Regions from separate parts of the Homo sapiens genome. Here all the other regions are linked to region 1. The links come from fine-mapping of genetic effects on gene expression. A gene starts in region 1. Each other region holds a variant in brackets. All regions are shown on one strand. Distances are between the middles of the regions. Region 1 holds the start of PIEZO1 (piezo type mechanosensitive ion channel component 1 (Er blood group)). Region 2 overlaps PIEZO1 (piezo type mechanosensitive ion channel component 1 (Er blood group)). Region 3 overlaps PIEZO1 (piezo type mechanosensitive ion channel component 1 (Er blood group)).

Evidence for each region.
Region 2: its variant is fine-mapped to the expression of PIEZO1 in left ventricle (GTEx, PIP 0.95).
Region 3: its variant is fine-mapped to the expression of PIEZO1 in esophagus mucosa (GTEx, PIP above 0.99). The same link has a PIP of 0.9 or more in sun-exposed skin.

The regions. Positions count from the first base shown.
Region 1 is chr16:88,782,097-88,787,096 of GRCh38, forward strand. PIEZO1 (piezo type mechanosensitive ion channel component 1 (Er blood group)) reads right to left here and starts at 3,124. Exons shown (of 51, transcript NM_001142864.4): 1 at 2,805-3,124. The coding sequence starts at 2,868. RefSeq lists silencers at 1,953-2,272, 2,773-3,252, 3,293-3,622 and an enhancer at 2,355-3,268.
Region 2 is chr16:88,743,004-88,748,003 of GRCh38, forward strand. The region is part of intron 2 of PIEZO1 (piezo type mechanosensitive ion channel component 1 (Er blood group)); the gene reads right to left. It overlaps PIEZO1-AS1 (PIEZO1 antisense RNA 1), which reads left to right. Exons shown (of 3, transcript NR_120387.1): 1 at 1-487; 2 at 589-1,341; 3 at 2,086-2,745. Among named protein-coding and RNA genes, the nearest start is that of PIEZO1-AS1, 2.7 kb to the left of the region's middle. RefSeq lists an enhancer at 861-1,547 and a silencer at 2,565-2,624. The variant T/TTTG (reference allele first, on the strand shown) is at 2,330.
Region 3 is chr16:88,752,642-88,757,641 of GRCh38, forward strand. All of the region lies in intron 1 of PIEZO1 (piezo type mechanosensitive ion channel component 1 (Er blood group)), which reads right to left. Among named protein-coding and RNA genes, the nearest start is that of PIEZO1-AS1, 12 kb to the left of the region's middle. The variant C/G (reference allele first, on the strand shown) is at 2,659.

The sequences.
Region 1 (5,000 bases):
ACAAATGTCCTGCCCTTTTTTTTCCTTTTTCTTTTTTGAGACAGGGTCTGTCACCCAGGCTGGAGTGCAGTCATACAATCATGGCTCACTGTAGCCTCCAACTCCTGGACTCAAACAATCATCCCACCTTGGCCTCCTGAGTAGCTGGGACTACAGGTGCACTACCACCATGCCCAGCTAATTTTTAAATATTTTTCATAGAGATGGGGATCTCTACGTTGCCCAGGCTGCTCTCGAATGGCTACGCTCAAGCAATCCTCCCACCTTGGCCTCCCGAAGCTCTGGGATTACAGGTGTGAGCCATCGCGCCCAGCCCTGCCCTGACATCTCTCTAGAAGAGATGGGCCCTGATCCCCCAAGGCTCCAGCAACATTAGGTGAGACTGCTGAAGGAGGCCCCTGCTCCCTGTGGGTGGGGCAGCTCCCTGCCAGATTTTTGGGTAATGATCCTGCACTGGAGAGGGAGGGCGTGGGGGCCAGGGGCACCCCAGGATGACTCAAACCCTCACCAGGCACTGTCTGAGCCAGCGCAGGCACACACTGACTAATGCCTTCTGAAGGCCTCATTCATTTCCAAAACACGGTAGAACTGCTTCCAGCCAAAGCTCGCCAGAGAGGGAGGGGGCACTCCAAAGACAGCAAAGCCAGTGTCCCACCTCCGGCCAGGCCAGCTGAACCTGCACATCGCGGGTCCATCTGGAGCTGCCCACACCCCAGGGCCAGAGAGCCTGACTCAGGAGTCCCGGCCAGCAGGCAGGCAGGCAGGGTTCTTGGCCGGCTCCACTTCCATCTCCCCCAGGTGACTGAGAGAAAACACTGAGTGAGGCCCAGGCCCCACGCCCCATCCCCAGACACAGAATCAGTGTGGGGTATGGCCCGGGCTTCAGCATCTTTCAAATTAAGAGACTTTATTTGGGACCAGTTTTAGGTTTAAGGAAAGTACCATACAGACAGACAGTCAGTCATCACTATTCTTTAAAAGTTTCATAGAAGACTGACACGGGGCCTGGGTGAGCACCCCTGGGCTACCTCCCCATCCTCCCCAAGGAGGCCAAAAGCAAGAAGAACAGTGATCCCTCCCCCAGATCCCCCACGCGGATAGCAATCGAGAAGGCAGAACCCAGGCCCCCTGACCAATGCCCAGGGGGCAGCAAACCACATGTGCCACAGAATCGGGCTCAACACCTGTTTAGGTACAGCCCATGAACTCAGGAGGGCTTTTACATTTAATGGCTGGAAAAATACCAGAAGAAGAAGATTTTGTGACATGAAAATATTTACCATCTGGTCATTTAAAGAAAAACATTGCCAACTCTGCCCAAGGAGCAGCTGCCATCTGAGAGGGGGGGCATTCCCTGCAGGGAGGACACCCGCTCCCACTCAGACACAAGAGGAAATGGAACGATCAGTGTGAACGGGACGTTTCAGAAGCTTTCCTGTTTCCCTCTCTAAGGCCTGTCAGCTCTAGACTCTGCCTCTGTGCCAGGCTGTCCTGCTTGTTTTCAAGGCACAGGAAGGAACACAGCCGGGCCCTGTTTACGGCCCATCTGACCCTGCACTGGGAGCAGGTCCCAGGCTGCCCAGTCCACACAGGGCTGACCGCACTGAAGAGAGTTGCTCAAAACCTCTCCTCTCCAGCCTCAATGGTTTTCATTGATTCCTGTCTAGAAAATCTTCCCCAAGTTTCACCACCTTTCTGTGCGACCGATCAAAACGCAGTCTGTCTGGGAGCCTCAGGCAGGCGGCTCTAGATCCCCAAAGCTAGCGCTGGGCGAGCTCCCACCTGGAGCGAGGCAAGGGCTCCGAAAGGGCTTTTACAATCAAAAGGCCCCACCTGCCGTGTCCATGGCGGACTCCCAATGCAAACCGTCCCACTTGTCCGTGGGTTAATTCCATCCGACTGCTTCCCAGATCAATCACACGTGGGGAGCCCCCGGGCGGAGGGCGCGGACCCTGGGTCCCGGCTAGGCCAGGGTCGGGGAAGGGTAGGGGTGCCAGGCCGTGCAGCACCAAGCCACCCGGGTGTGCTTCGCGAAAGGGGCACCACTGCCCGGCAAGCAGGGAACACAGATGCCAGGACTGGGGACCCCTGCCCCGCCCTGACACCAGGCCACAGCCTCCGGGGGTGTCCCCTCCCCCAGACCAGGGCAGAGGCCGGCCCCCGCCCCTGCGAAACTGAGCCCAGTAGGGCAAGGGAGGACCAGGGAGGAACCCACACTATTTTTTTCCAAAGTGTGGGACCGCCTCAGTCCGGCAGAGGGGGGTGCAGCGGTGAGCGGGGCTGGGCCCTGGGCACGGACGTTCGTTGGGCTCGGGAAGCTCCAAATTAAACAGCTCCAGGCAGGAAGCCCGCCTTCTCCCAGATTGTCAGGAAGTCCTGATGCAACTTTGCGCTTTTTTTTTTAAACCCGAAAGAGAAAAAGAGATTCGTGCTCCCCCCACCACCGCCGCGGCCCTTCCCACCGGGGCAAACACCGCCTCGCCCGGCGGCCTCCTCTCCGCAGCGCCCCGGCGGAGACGCCAGCCGCGCTATGCCCGGCGCTCGCTCGACCGCCCCCGTGGGCACGCGGTGCCGTCTCCCCCAGCCGCCGCCGCCCTTCCAGCCCGGCCCTGGGACAGGAGCCCCGCCGCCGCCTGGCGCGCTCATGCTTCAGGAATGCGGGCGCCCGGGTCGCGCGTCCCTGGGAATTTCCGCGCCCGCTCGCCCGCAGCCCTCGCCCCGGCCGGCGTCGTCCGGTGTCCAGGCCGTGGGGAGCCGAGACGCAGCCCCCTCCCGTCGCCCCCAGGCGCCCGCCCCCCACTCACCAGCCAGCAGCGCGCAGGGCAGCAGCAGCCAGTACAGGACCGCGCCGAGCACGTGCGGCTCCATGGCTGGAGGGCCCAGGGCCCGGCCCAGACCGAGCGGACGCCGCGGCGCTATGGGGCGGTGCGGGGGCCCCGGGGCCGGCGCGCCATGGCTGACCCGCGGGGACCCGCGCGCCGCCTTCTCCTCTTCCTCCTTCTCCTTCGGCCGCCCCGCCGGTGCCGACGTCCCGGGCCCGCGCTCGCTCAGGCGACCGCCCTGCCCCTCGGCGGAGCGCAGCGCTCGGCTCACTGGGGCCGAGCTGGGCCGGACGGCGGCTCCCGCCCTCCTCCGCCCGCGGGCCTTTATAAGCTCGGCCCCCTCCCGCCCTCCCCGGCGTGCCCGCCTCCGCGCTTCCCCGACGGCCCGGCGCGCCCAGGCACCCCCTCCGCTGTCCCGCGCGGCCCGTCCCGCCTCCGGCCCGCCCTGGTGCGTTGGGGCCTGGAGACCCCCGACTGGCGCTGGCCCGGAGCGGACCCCTCCCCTCCCGCAGTCTTGGCCCCGCGGCTCCGAGCGTGCGCGGCGGTGGGCAGGGGCGCTTCTCGCTGGGTGGGCTGCGGCTGGGGCCCGGGCGCTACATAAGGGGTCCCGGGGCCTCTGGCTCCCCCAGGCAGCGCCCCACGCGCAACTGCACCCCGCGTGCCCGAGCGACTTTCGCTTTGCTCCCCGAGGCGCGAGCACGCAGCGCCCCCTGGGGACCGTGGGGAGGCTCGGAGTTCCCGCGGCGGCCGGGCCTAGTGGTCCCGGAGGGAGCACGCGGGATGCTCGGGTCGCAGCAGTGCCGCGATCCGCGTTGGTCTGACGGGGGCTCGGGGGCTGCTCCCAGCCACGCCGGCCACCGCGCGCGGCTTTGCCCGGGTCGCTCTGGCGTGAGACGGTGAGAGTGAGAGCCACGGCCTGTGCACCTGCTGCCGCGGCGCCCTGCCACGGAGAGGTAGGGTCTGAGTCCAGGGTGTTCGGGACCCTCACCCAGGCCACGTCAGTTTGGCCTTCGTCTGCCCTTGAGATGGGCACAGAAAGAGGGCAAAGGGCTCTACACCGTTTAATTGGGCTCAGTTCATGGCTCTCAAACTCAGCTGCGTAAGGCAGGGAGTGGGGCTGGGGGGACTGTGGCCACTGAGCCTCAAGGCACTGGCAACTCATGAGAGCCCAGCACAAGCCCACACCCTCCAGCTCAAAAAAAAAAAAAAAAAAAAAAGATGGCGGGGCAGTGGCTCAGGCCTGTAATCCCAGCACTTTGCGGGGCTGAGGCAAGGGGGTAGGGGGTCGGGGGATCACTTGACGTCAGGAGTTCGAGACCAGCCTGGCCAACATGGTGAAACCCCGTCTCTACTAAAAATACAAAAATTAGGCCGGGCGCGGTGGCTCACGCCTGTAATCCCAGCACTTTGGGAGGCCGAGGCGGGTGGATCACCAGGTCAGGAGATCGAGACCATCCTGGCTAACACGGTGAAAACCCATCTCTACTAAAAACATAAAAAATTAGCCGGGCGTGGTGGCGGGCTCCTGTAGTCCCAACTACTCGGGAGGCTGAGGCAGGAGAATGGCATCAACCCAGGAGGCGGAGCTTGCAGTGAGCCGAGATAGCGCCACTGCACTCCAGCCTGGGCGACAGAGCCAGACTCCGTCTCAATAAATAAATAAATAAATAAATAAATAAATAAATAAATATACAAAAATTAGCCGGGCGTGATGGCAGGCGCCTGTATTCCCAACTACTCAGGAGGCCGAGGCAGGAAAATCGCTTGAACCTGGGAGGCAGAGGTTGCCGTGAGCCGAGATCATGCCATTGCACTCCAGCCTGAGTGACAAGAACGAAACTCCATTAAAAAAAAAAAAACCACCCAGAAATGGAGATTTTCATGGGAAGTCTAGTGTTTAAAGGCTGATATAGGCCGGGTGCGGTGGCTCACGCCTGTAATCCCAGCACTTTTGGAGGCCGAGGCGGGTGGATCACGAGGTCAGCAGATGGAGACCATCCTGGCTAACACGGTGAAACCCCATCTCTACTAAAAATACAAAAAATTAGCCGGGCGCGGTGGCGGGCGCCTGTAGTCCCAGCTACTCGGAAGGCTGAGGCAGGAGAATGGCGTGAACCCGGGAGGCGGAGCTTGCAGTGAGCCGAGATCACCCCACTGCACTCCAGCCTGGGCAACAGA
Region 2 (5,000 bases), 39 kb before region 1:
GCATTTCAGGCACCTGCTGTGCACCAGGTCAGGCCCCAGACCGGCATCCTCTCTCTCTCTGTGCACCCACACCTGGCAGGAAGCGGCAGCACCATCTGGTTGCCTGGCAGCCTTGTCCTGCTCCCAGCTGCCTGTGGCCCCACTGGACTCAGCCCCCCAGCAGGGAGGCCTTCGGCTGCAGGGCAGGGGCTGGGCGGGCGCACCCTGTGGCTGGGGGCACTCAGGAGCCCTGGCTTCACCTCTGCTCTCGGCGCACATGTGGACAGCTCACCCTTCAGCAGGGGTCCGGACCAAAGTCCTTGACCCACCGGGTTCTGAGTCCTGACAGGGCTGTGGACAGCTTCCCTTTCCACCCCGGCACGTGCTGGCAGGAGCTTCCGGGCCCTCACCCTGGGGCAGCAACTCCTGCACCACCAGCCACGCCCGGCCACGAGAAAGTGCAGAACAGCTCAGGCCCTTCTCACAACTTCCTGGAGCTCAGGGACAGGTAGCATCTGGGTCTGGGTCCAAGGTGGTGAATGTCACCACCACATCTGCCCTCTCTCGGCCTCGGGGCGCAAACTCAGGGCCTGTGTCCACTCTGTTCAGTTTTTTGAGCACAAATGGTGTTAGGTGACAGACTCGGGATTGGCCTTGGACACTCAGCCCCCTCTTTCTGGAGCAAAGACTCATGACCCACGTCCAAGTCACCCTGCACATCCCTAAGCCTGACCGTGAAGCAGCCCTCACGGATGCCCAGGACTCCCTGTCCGCACCACCAGGCAGCCGAGGCAGGTTTGGACCAGCTTCTCACACTCACACCTTCCTAGGGTTGCCCCAGGCCCTGACCTGCTGACCCTGCAGCTATGACCTCTGACCTGTGGAGGATGGGAGGGGTGAGCAGCAGGGAGAGTGGGAAGGAGGAATGGAAAACCGTCCAGGAAGGGAGGCTGCAGCCCCGACACGAACAGGAGCCACCACCAGGGGGTGCTGTGCAGGGCTCCCGGAGGACAGGACCTTCCAGGGCCTCCCTGCCCCGAACCCATAGGTGCCAGGCTTCTCACTGCTCACGACCTCCGTGCCGGGCTCATACCTGCCGCGCCAGCCCCTCTTCAGCAGAGCACAAGTCTGGCAGCAGGAGGGCACCAGCCAGGGGCCCCGCGCCCCCGCCTCTGTACAGCAGGGTCACCGTGGGGTGACATGAGAACACCGACCCAGGGAATGGGCTCCTGCCACACCTGCCTGGGAACCTGGGCTGTGAGTCCTGCTCGCTGCACCCTCTAGCCTGACGTTGAAGTAACCTCGCCAGCGGGGCCCTCTGTGGCACTGGGCACTCAGGGAGAGCACGTGGCATTGGAGAAGGTATTCTGAGTCCTACAGAGAGGGACCTGCGGGGCCTGCCCCACAGGCACGTGGGGCTCCTGCTGGGGCTGTCAAGGACCCCCGGGCACTGAGAGGACATCTGGGCCCTTGGGCAGCCAGGCTGACGGGTTCCCTGCACACACGATCCAGCAGCCCGGGAAGGAACTGCCTGACCAGAGACCCCTGGGCAGGGAGGGGCTCTCAGGCCACCTGGCTCCCGCCCACCCGCCTTGCCCTGCACGACAGTCCAGGATGTCCGTCTCTGGCTACATCTCGGATGTCACTGCTTCCCCATTGTCTTCCTCCCTCCCCTTTCCCTGCCTCCTTCCCGGTTCAGTTCTCGGGCCGGCCAGAGTGTCCTGGTCTGGCCATGTTAGAACAGCTGGGCCATGATCCCTCCGCAGGGTCGAAGGGGCCGCAGCTGGGCCTGGAGGCCACTCCTGGCCACGTGGCACGCCCGCTCCCTGCCTGGGCTGGATCAGACTAGGGAGCTGAGAGTCCGAGGGGCACCCCGGGAAGAGACGCTGCTGGAGATGGGAGGGGGCCGGAACGTGCAGAGGGATCGAGGCTCTGCTGACCTGCACGGGGCGGGGAGCGGGGAGGTGCACACAGAGGCCGAGGGGGCACCCTGACACCGGCCCTCTTCTCCGACGCAAACAGCATGACCTCAAGGGGTCGGGTGGCTTTCTCGTGCCTCCACCTGCAGCCCCTGTCCCCGCCCACCCCGTCACTCTCCCCCTGCAGGTCCCACCCCCAAATGCAAAGCTGGGAAAACCAGGCTGAGCCGGGGATCAGGCCACCTCCGCAGGGACCCACTGCTGCCTCTTCCAGGAGCCCAGGAGACCCAGTGGGTCTCCTGCCCCCGACTCCAACTCCCTCCTGGCAGGACACACCCAGCTCACAGTGGCCTTTCCATCCTGGGAAAGGGAGTGAGAGGAGGCTCAGGCCAGGGACCCGCCCAGCTCTGGCCGGCAACCGCCCTTCAGCC[T/TTTG]TTCCTGAACCACTGTGTGGGCCCCAACCCATCCGCTGCCTGCCGGAGGGAGCCCATGGGGAATGGACTATTCTTGCCACCCCTATCCATGGCAGGGGAGGGGCTCAGCATGGCTCTTGCCCACCCAGAAGAAGGTGCAGGGGGCCTGGCGTGGTGGTTCACACCTTTGGGAGGCCGAGGTGGGTGGATCACCTCAGGTCAGGAGTTTGAGACCAGCCTGGCCAACATGGTGAAACCCTGTTTCTACTGAAAATACAAAAATTAGCCAGGCGTGGTGATGGGCACCTGTAATCTCAGCTACTCAGGAGGCTGAGGCAGGAGAATCACTTTCACTTAAACCCAGGAGGCGGAGGTTGCAGTGAGTTGAGATCGCGCCACTGCACTCCAGCCTGGGCAACAGAACAAGACTCCGTCTCAAAAAAAAAAAAAAAAAAAGGGGCCGGGGCTCCCCCTCCAGCTTGCAGGGCTCTCAGGAGGAAACAGGAAGGGGCGGGGAGGCCCCAGGGTATTGCAGACCGGATGGTTGACAGAGCATGGACCTCCCCCAGAGCCGGAGCCCTTGGACCCCGGCACGGCCTGCAAAGGCTGAGGGGCCCCACCACGGCAGCATCCTGATGCGTGGTCCATAGCCACCATCCCCACACCTGCCGGACAAGGGCTGGGCCTGATTGTTCTGTGGGGAGTGTGGAGTTGCCCTGAGTCTGATCCGTGGGGTGTGCATGGGAGCCCCCTGGAACCTGATCCATGGGGTGTGCATGGGACCAGCCAAGGGACCCAGGGTGCCTTGAGGCTGAGCCATGAGGCCCACCCAGCGACAGCTAGGGCTGAGCTGCGGGGTAGGGCCACGAGAGGGGCCTTTTGAGACAGAGGATGGAGACTACACAAGGCTGGCAGAGCCGGGGGACCAGTGAAGCTGGAGAGGGTGGCAGGGCCTCCCTGCACGGGGCATGGTAAGAGGTGGGGGGTGATCTCTCTCCAGACAGCAGGGTCAGTCTTGGAGGTGGGTTTTATCCTAAGGCAGGATGGGGCTTCTGAGTCCCTAAATGACAAGCAGGTCTCTGGGAGCCACCCCCTGTGGCTCTGCCTGCAGCCCTGCCTGGAGCACCAGGGTCTGTTCCCTCTGCCCCAGCCCCAGCCCCTACCCCTCTCCTCCCTGTTCAGTCTGAGCTCAACCTCCAGCCCCCCAAGGATCAGGCTGACGCCTACAAGGGGACCAAGGCTCAGATGGCGTCAGAGCTTCCACCAGGGCCACGCCAAGCCCAGCAGCTGCACAAATCATAAAGCCCCGGGCACTCGGCTCGGGCAAGCCTCACACTTTCCTCTCTCCCTCCCGGAAAACTGGGCAGCATCTCCGTCTCTGAAGGGCCTCTGACGAGGCTCAGGCAGGGAAGTCCTCCCGGGTCCTCTCCAAATCTTCCCACCCCAGCTCCTCCCCTGGCCTGGCTGGGCGCCTGCCTTCCCCCACTGCTGATTAAAGGAAAGTGTTTCCAATTGCGCCCTGGGCATGAAATATTTACGGAACAAACGGCGAAACGCCAGGGGCCTGGGAACAGACAGAACCGGCTCCACAGAGCAAAGGGGAGGCCCAGGATAGGGACCGGGAGTGGGGGTGCCCACCCACCCCAGCCATGCATCCTGGAGGGGTTTGGGCCTCGGGCCCCAGCGACTCCCAGCACTCGGCCGCACTGGGCCCCTCCCAAAATGCCTCTCTGCACCCCTGAATTCTACCCATGATCCAAGATCAGTGCCTGCGCTGGGCACAGTGACTCACACCTGTAATCTCAGCACTTTGGTAGGCTAAGGCAGGAGGATCGCTTGAGCCCAGGAGGTGGAGGCTGCAGTGAGCCATGATCATGCCACTGCTCTCCAGCCTGGGCAACCAAGCAAGACCCCCACTCGAAAAAAAAAAAAAAAGCCAAGCACGGTAGCTCATGCCTGTAGTCTCGGCCGAGGTGGGCAGATCACCTGAGGTCAGGAGTTCAAGACCAGCCTGGCCAACATGGTAAAACCCCTGTCTCTACAAAAACACAAAAATTAGCCAGGCATGATGGTGGGCGCCTGTAATCCCAGCTACTCGGGAGGCCGAGGCGGGAGAATCGCTTGAACCCGCGAGGCGGAGGTTGCAGTGAGCCCAGATCGTGCCATTGCACTCCAGCCTGGGTGACAGAGTGAGACTCCATCTCAAAAAAAATAAATAAAAAAGACCATTGCCCACCCCACAGCACCACGAGCTAGGAGGAGCCTCTGGGATGCTTCCAGCCAGATGTCGCGAGGCCGGAGAGCGACCTTCCACCTGCAGCTGGCAGAACGATGGACCCCAATGATGCCTGCACCCCAGTCCCCAGAATCTGTGAACGCAGAAGCTCACATGCAGAGGCGAGTCCAGGCAGCAGAGGAAATGGGGGCTGCCCAACAGCTGACCTTAAACCAGGGAAGTCGGCCTGGATTAGCCGGGGAGGCAGATGGGACGAAGCCACAGGGTTACCGCAGGGGAGAGGGAGCAGGAGAGACAGGGTGTGATCCTGACCCCACCCCACCGGCTCTGGAGATGGAGGGAGGGGCCCCAAGCCCAGGAAGGTAGGCACCTGGAGCAGCTGGAAGAGGAAGCAGATCCTCCCCAGAGTCCCCTGGAAAAACGCAGCCCGGTGGACACCTCGTAGCCATGGACAGG
Region 3 (5,000 bases), 29 kb before region 1:
AGCTGGAGGCCTCCCTGACCGCCCTGCCCCTGGCCGAGCCAGAGGGGAACCTTGAGGGGCAGAGTGGACTCAAAGGCAGAGGACGATGGGGGCATGGGAGGCACCTTGGCAGGGGTTCCCCGGCAGGCCAACGTCACCCGGCAGGGCAAGTCCCCTGCCTGAGACCATGACCCACCACGGGCCTGCCCTGGGGTGATCAGCAACACGCCCCCCAGAGTTTGTTCACTCATTCATTCATCCATTCATCCATTCATCCATTCATTCATTCATTCAATACCAAGCAGGCCCCACCAGGCAGCGGGCTTGGTCTAGGGTCCGGGGACATGGTGGACAGTTGGACAGACAGCTAAGGCTTGTCCCAGGTGGCGGCCACTCACCAACAACACAGACAAGGAAAAGGCTCAGAGAGGAAGAGGGCTACTTAGCCCAAAGCCCACCCACCGCCCCCAGAGCACACCCACCGCCCCCCAGAGCACACTCACCCCCGGAGCACCCCTGCCCCCCCAGAGCACAACCGCCCCCCCAGAGCACACCTATCCATCCCCAGAGCACACCCCGCCCCCCAGAGCACACCTGTCCATCCCCAGAGCACACCAGCCCCCCCAGAGCGCACCCAGCCCCCCAGAGCTCACCCGCCCCCCCAGAGCGTACCCGGCCCCCCGCAGCACACCTCCCGCCCCCGGAGCACACCTGCCACCCCCAGAGCACACCCACTCACCCAAGGACGGGCTGAGACAGGAGGGCCCTGGCTGGTCCCTGGCGCCATCTTCTGTCAGCCTTGCCACAGACACCAAGCAGGGGCAGCCTCACGGGTGGGATGAGAAGGGGGCTCAGGGTCACAGCCCAGCCCACCACTTCTCCCATCATCTGGTCTTGGGGTCCTCGGAGTAGCCGGCTAGCAGGGCAGGAGTGAGGAGCACTCCTCCAATGCTCCAATGCCCCCATTTTCAGATGGGATGGGCTCTGAGAGGGGAGGAGCTCCCAAGAGTGGTCAGGACCCAGGTCCGGGCATCCCGGCCGCAGGGCCACGGCTTTTCGAAACACTCCTTGGATCTACCTGTGCTGTCTATGCAGCCGGCAGTGCTCTTGGTCTAAGTGTGTTGATGTGGCCTCAGCTGTGACTTTGTGGGCTAAAGCCAGAGGGGGAGACTTCAGAGCAGGCTGCCTGGAGGAGACGGCATTGCTTTTGGCCCTGAAGACTGGCTCCAACTCAGGGCAGGTCGGAAGCTTCGCAGATCAGGCTCAGGCAGAGAAGGAAGAAATTCAGCCAAAGGGGAGGCGGGGCCTGAGACAATCCAAGGAGCGGGGACAGGAGCCTGCCCTGCCCTGTGGCTCCCATGTTCCCATCAGGAGCTGCCCAGGCTGGGCCTGTGACCCCGTGGGGGTAATGCCTTTTCCTGAGTCAGCTGCAATGGGATGGGGTCAGAGAGAGCTGTGGTTCCCAACCCCCAACCCCCTCGCCTCACCAGCACACGCCTGACTATGGCCCACATCCAGCTCCTTGGGAAGCAGAGAGCCCAGCCATCACCCATCCACAGACCTTCATCCTACAGCTGAGAGGAGCACAGTCAGGAGGGGAGAGGCTGCCCCCACGGTAGCTGCTGGGCCCCTGGGTGTCCAAGGGCTGGGCTGGCCTCTGCTTTCAGTGGGTGCTGGCCAGGAAAGCCACAAATGCCACATGGTGGTAACCAGGACCACACACCACTCAACCGGAACATTCCACAAAGAGGGCTGGACACCACCCACTCCCACTGGCACATAGGAAGACCTGCCAGGGGATGTCAGATGCCTGAGCCCCCCTGCCAGGATCCAGTTCCTGGGATGAGACCCTTGCAGCTGACCCACGCCCGGGTGGGAGAGGAGAAACTGCCCAACCCTCGTTCCCTGTGGTGATCGAGGAGGAGCTGTCTGGCCTCCTCTAACACGGGCTGAACCAAGCCTGACGAGGCCTGAAGGACTGTCACAGGGAGGGCTGCCGGATGGGGCTTTCACAACCTGGACACCTCATACATGCTCCCTCCAGGAGCCACACAGAGACCCAAGGCCAGGATTTTGAGCAGGGGGGCTCCGTGAAACAGCCGGTGCGGCCTGTGTGTGACCCCACACTGCCGGGGCCCGCAGGCCAGCGCTGGCCGAGAGCAGGACGTGGTGCAGAAAGACTGCGGCCCACACGGGTGGGTGACCCGGGACCCACAGGAGCTGAGGCTGCATCACAGAGCAGGCAGAGACGAGCTGGGGGCATCGTGTGAACGAACGCCCCGGCGTGCCGTCCCGCTCCACGCCTGCACAGGAGCTGAAAGCTGGGGCCCCAGGCCCAGCAGCTGAACCTCCCACCCGAGGACACCTGTTGCGCCCCAGGGAGAGGAGAGGCCTAACCAGAGGGTGGACACACCTGCGGCCATCAGGTCACCGCCGCGGCCATCACGTCACCGCCGCCCCCAGTGCAGGCACGGGGCTGGGTGATCTGTCCCGTACAGTCCTGTGGCACTAGCCGAGGACCACGACTGTCACCTCCACATTGCAGACGAGGAGATGGAGCAAGCCTGGGATGCGGCGAACAGCCGCCCCCGCCGCCCCCGCCATGTGGCTCGGGCCTAGCTGGCTGTGGGGACAGAGTAACTTTATTTAAATGCTAATCTGCTGATTAACCCCGGGTCT[C/G]GGAATGCCTCCAGACTGGCTGGTTGATGCATCATCTTCCTGCAGGAGCACCTACTCCCTGGCATTCACGTGCAGGAAAGAAAAAAAAGAGTGTCTAGTCCTCGTACGTTTCTTCCTAAACAAACCCGGTGCTGCAGCAGGAATCTGGCCACCCCACCCGCCACGTTCCCAGCCACCTGCACATTCCTCCCAGGGCACGATACGAGCCCCAGATCGGGCGTTTGGGTTCAGAGCTCTACCTGCCTGGAGGCTGCCTGAGGCCATGTTTCCGTCTGTAAGTTCCTGCCAGTAAATAGGCGGGTACCAACACACTTGCTCTGTCTGCCTCCTTTTATTTCCCGGCTCCTTCAGTATCTGGGGGTTGCTTTGCTTATACCGCCTTTTCACCGAACGGTGGCGCCTACCCTCAAAGCTCCCATCTCCAAAGGGGACAGTGCAGAAGGCACCATGAGAGGCCGGGGGCCCCCAGGCCAAGAGCTGCAGAGCGGCCTCACAGGAGAGCCTCGGGCGGTGGACAGGTGGGGACCGGGTGGGACCAGCAAGTCTGAGGAGACAGTGGCGCTCAGGAGTCAACCTGGCCAGCAGATCCTGACATGAGAAACCGGGGCCAGGGGGTGGCAATTCCTGGGTTCCCAGCACAGGGCAGAGCCTCGGAGCGGGGAGGGCGGGGGCCACCCAGGAGCCAGGACAGCAGAAGAAGGAAGGACTGGGGCCTGGAGTCCAGGTGTGGCCCAGCACTTGGGTCCAGGGTCACAGGAGTGAGCAGTCAGAGGTGTCCTCAGCCATGGAAGGTATCACACACCAGGCAGGGAAGTGGGGCTCTGCGGCCGCCATCTGGGAGCCTCGAGGGTGGTCTATGCTCTCGGGGTGACTGTCCACTCCTCACGGGCACCAGGCCACAGGGAGGGTGTGCAGGACGCCCACACCCAGCCCGATGTCCACCAGGAGCTCAGTCTTAGGCATGGAGGCACCTGCCCAACCTGGGTGCCTAGAAGGATCCTAAGAGGCCCCTCCACAACCTGGAGTCAGTCGTTCTGCCTCGGGACTCTGGACCCCACAATGGCCGCACTGGCCACTGATGGGGCGGGGTGGGCTAATGGACCGGAAGGATCTCGTGTGACATGTCCTCAGGAACCACACCCACCTGAGTGCTGTACAAAACTGGTGGCTGGGGCCGGGCACCGTGGCTCACGCCTGTAATCCCAGCACTTTGGGAGGCCGAGGCGGGAAGATGGCTCAAGCCCGCCATCTCATGGTCAGGAGTTCGAAACCAGCCTGGCCAACATGGTGAAACCCCATCTCTACTAAAAATACAAAATGTATCTGGGTGTGGTGGTGGGTGCCTGTAGTCCCAGCTACTTGGGAGGCTGAGGCAAGAGAATCGCTTGAACCTGGGAGGTGGAGGTTGCAGTGAGCTGAGATTATGTCACTGCACTCCAGCCTGGGCAATAGAGCAAGATTCCGTCTCAAAAAACAATAAAAATAAAAACAAACAAGCCAGGTGCAGTGGCTCATGCCTGTAATCCCAGCACTTTGGGAGGCCGAGGCGGGCAGATCAGAAGGTCAGGAGATCGAGACCATCCTGGCCAACATGGTGAAACCCTGTCTCTACTAAAAATACAAAAAAGTAGCCGGGTGTGGTGGCGGGCACCTGTAGTCCCAGCTACTTGGGGGGCTGAGGCAGGAGAATGGCGTGAACCCAGGAGATGGAGCTTGCAGTGAGCCGAGATCAGGACACTGCACTCCAGCCTGGGCGACAGAGCGAGACTCCGTCTCAAAACAAACAAAAAATGGGTGGCTGGGGAGCCGCACTGGCCCTCGGTCCCTGGGGAAGGGAAGGGCTGAGGCAGGCAGATGGCAATCCAGGTTTAGACTCCAGGTTAGACCACCTGGAGGCTGAGCCCTCGGAGCCGGGGGCTGGAAGACGCGATGCATTGAGGTTAGGAGGAGGGACCTCGAGAGAGCTGGCAGCGCAGCAGCACCTGGTGCAGGCCCTGGGTATGCAGGGGGCGTTGCTGGCGGGGGGGTGGGGGGTAGTTACCTAACCTGCCTGCTTTCCCGTGTGGTTAAAAGGCTCCAATGACAGTGCCTGAGAGTGTGTGGACACTGGCAGCCTGTGAGAGCAGGGGCGGGTGGGAACAGGTCTCCAAAAGGACTGACGGGGCCTAGGAGACAGGAGAGGGACAGGTGCTTGAACAAGGGCTGGGGGCCAAGACGGGGGAAAGAGCTTCTCAAAGGAAGTGGAGCCAATGGGCTGGACTGAGATCCCATCTCCACCTTCTCCAGGGCTTCCACACCCAGGAAGGAGAGCCCATGGGTTGAAGCTTCGTCACCTGGGAAGC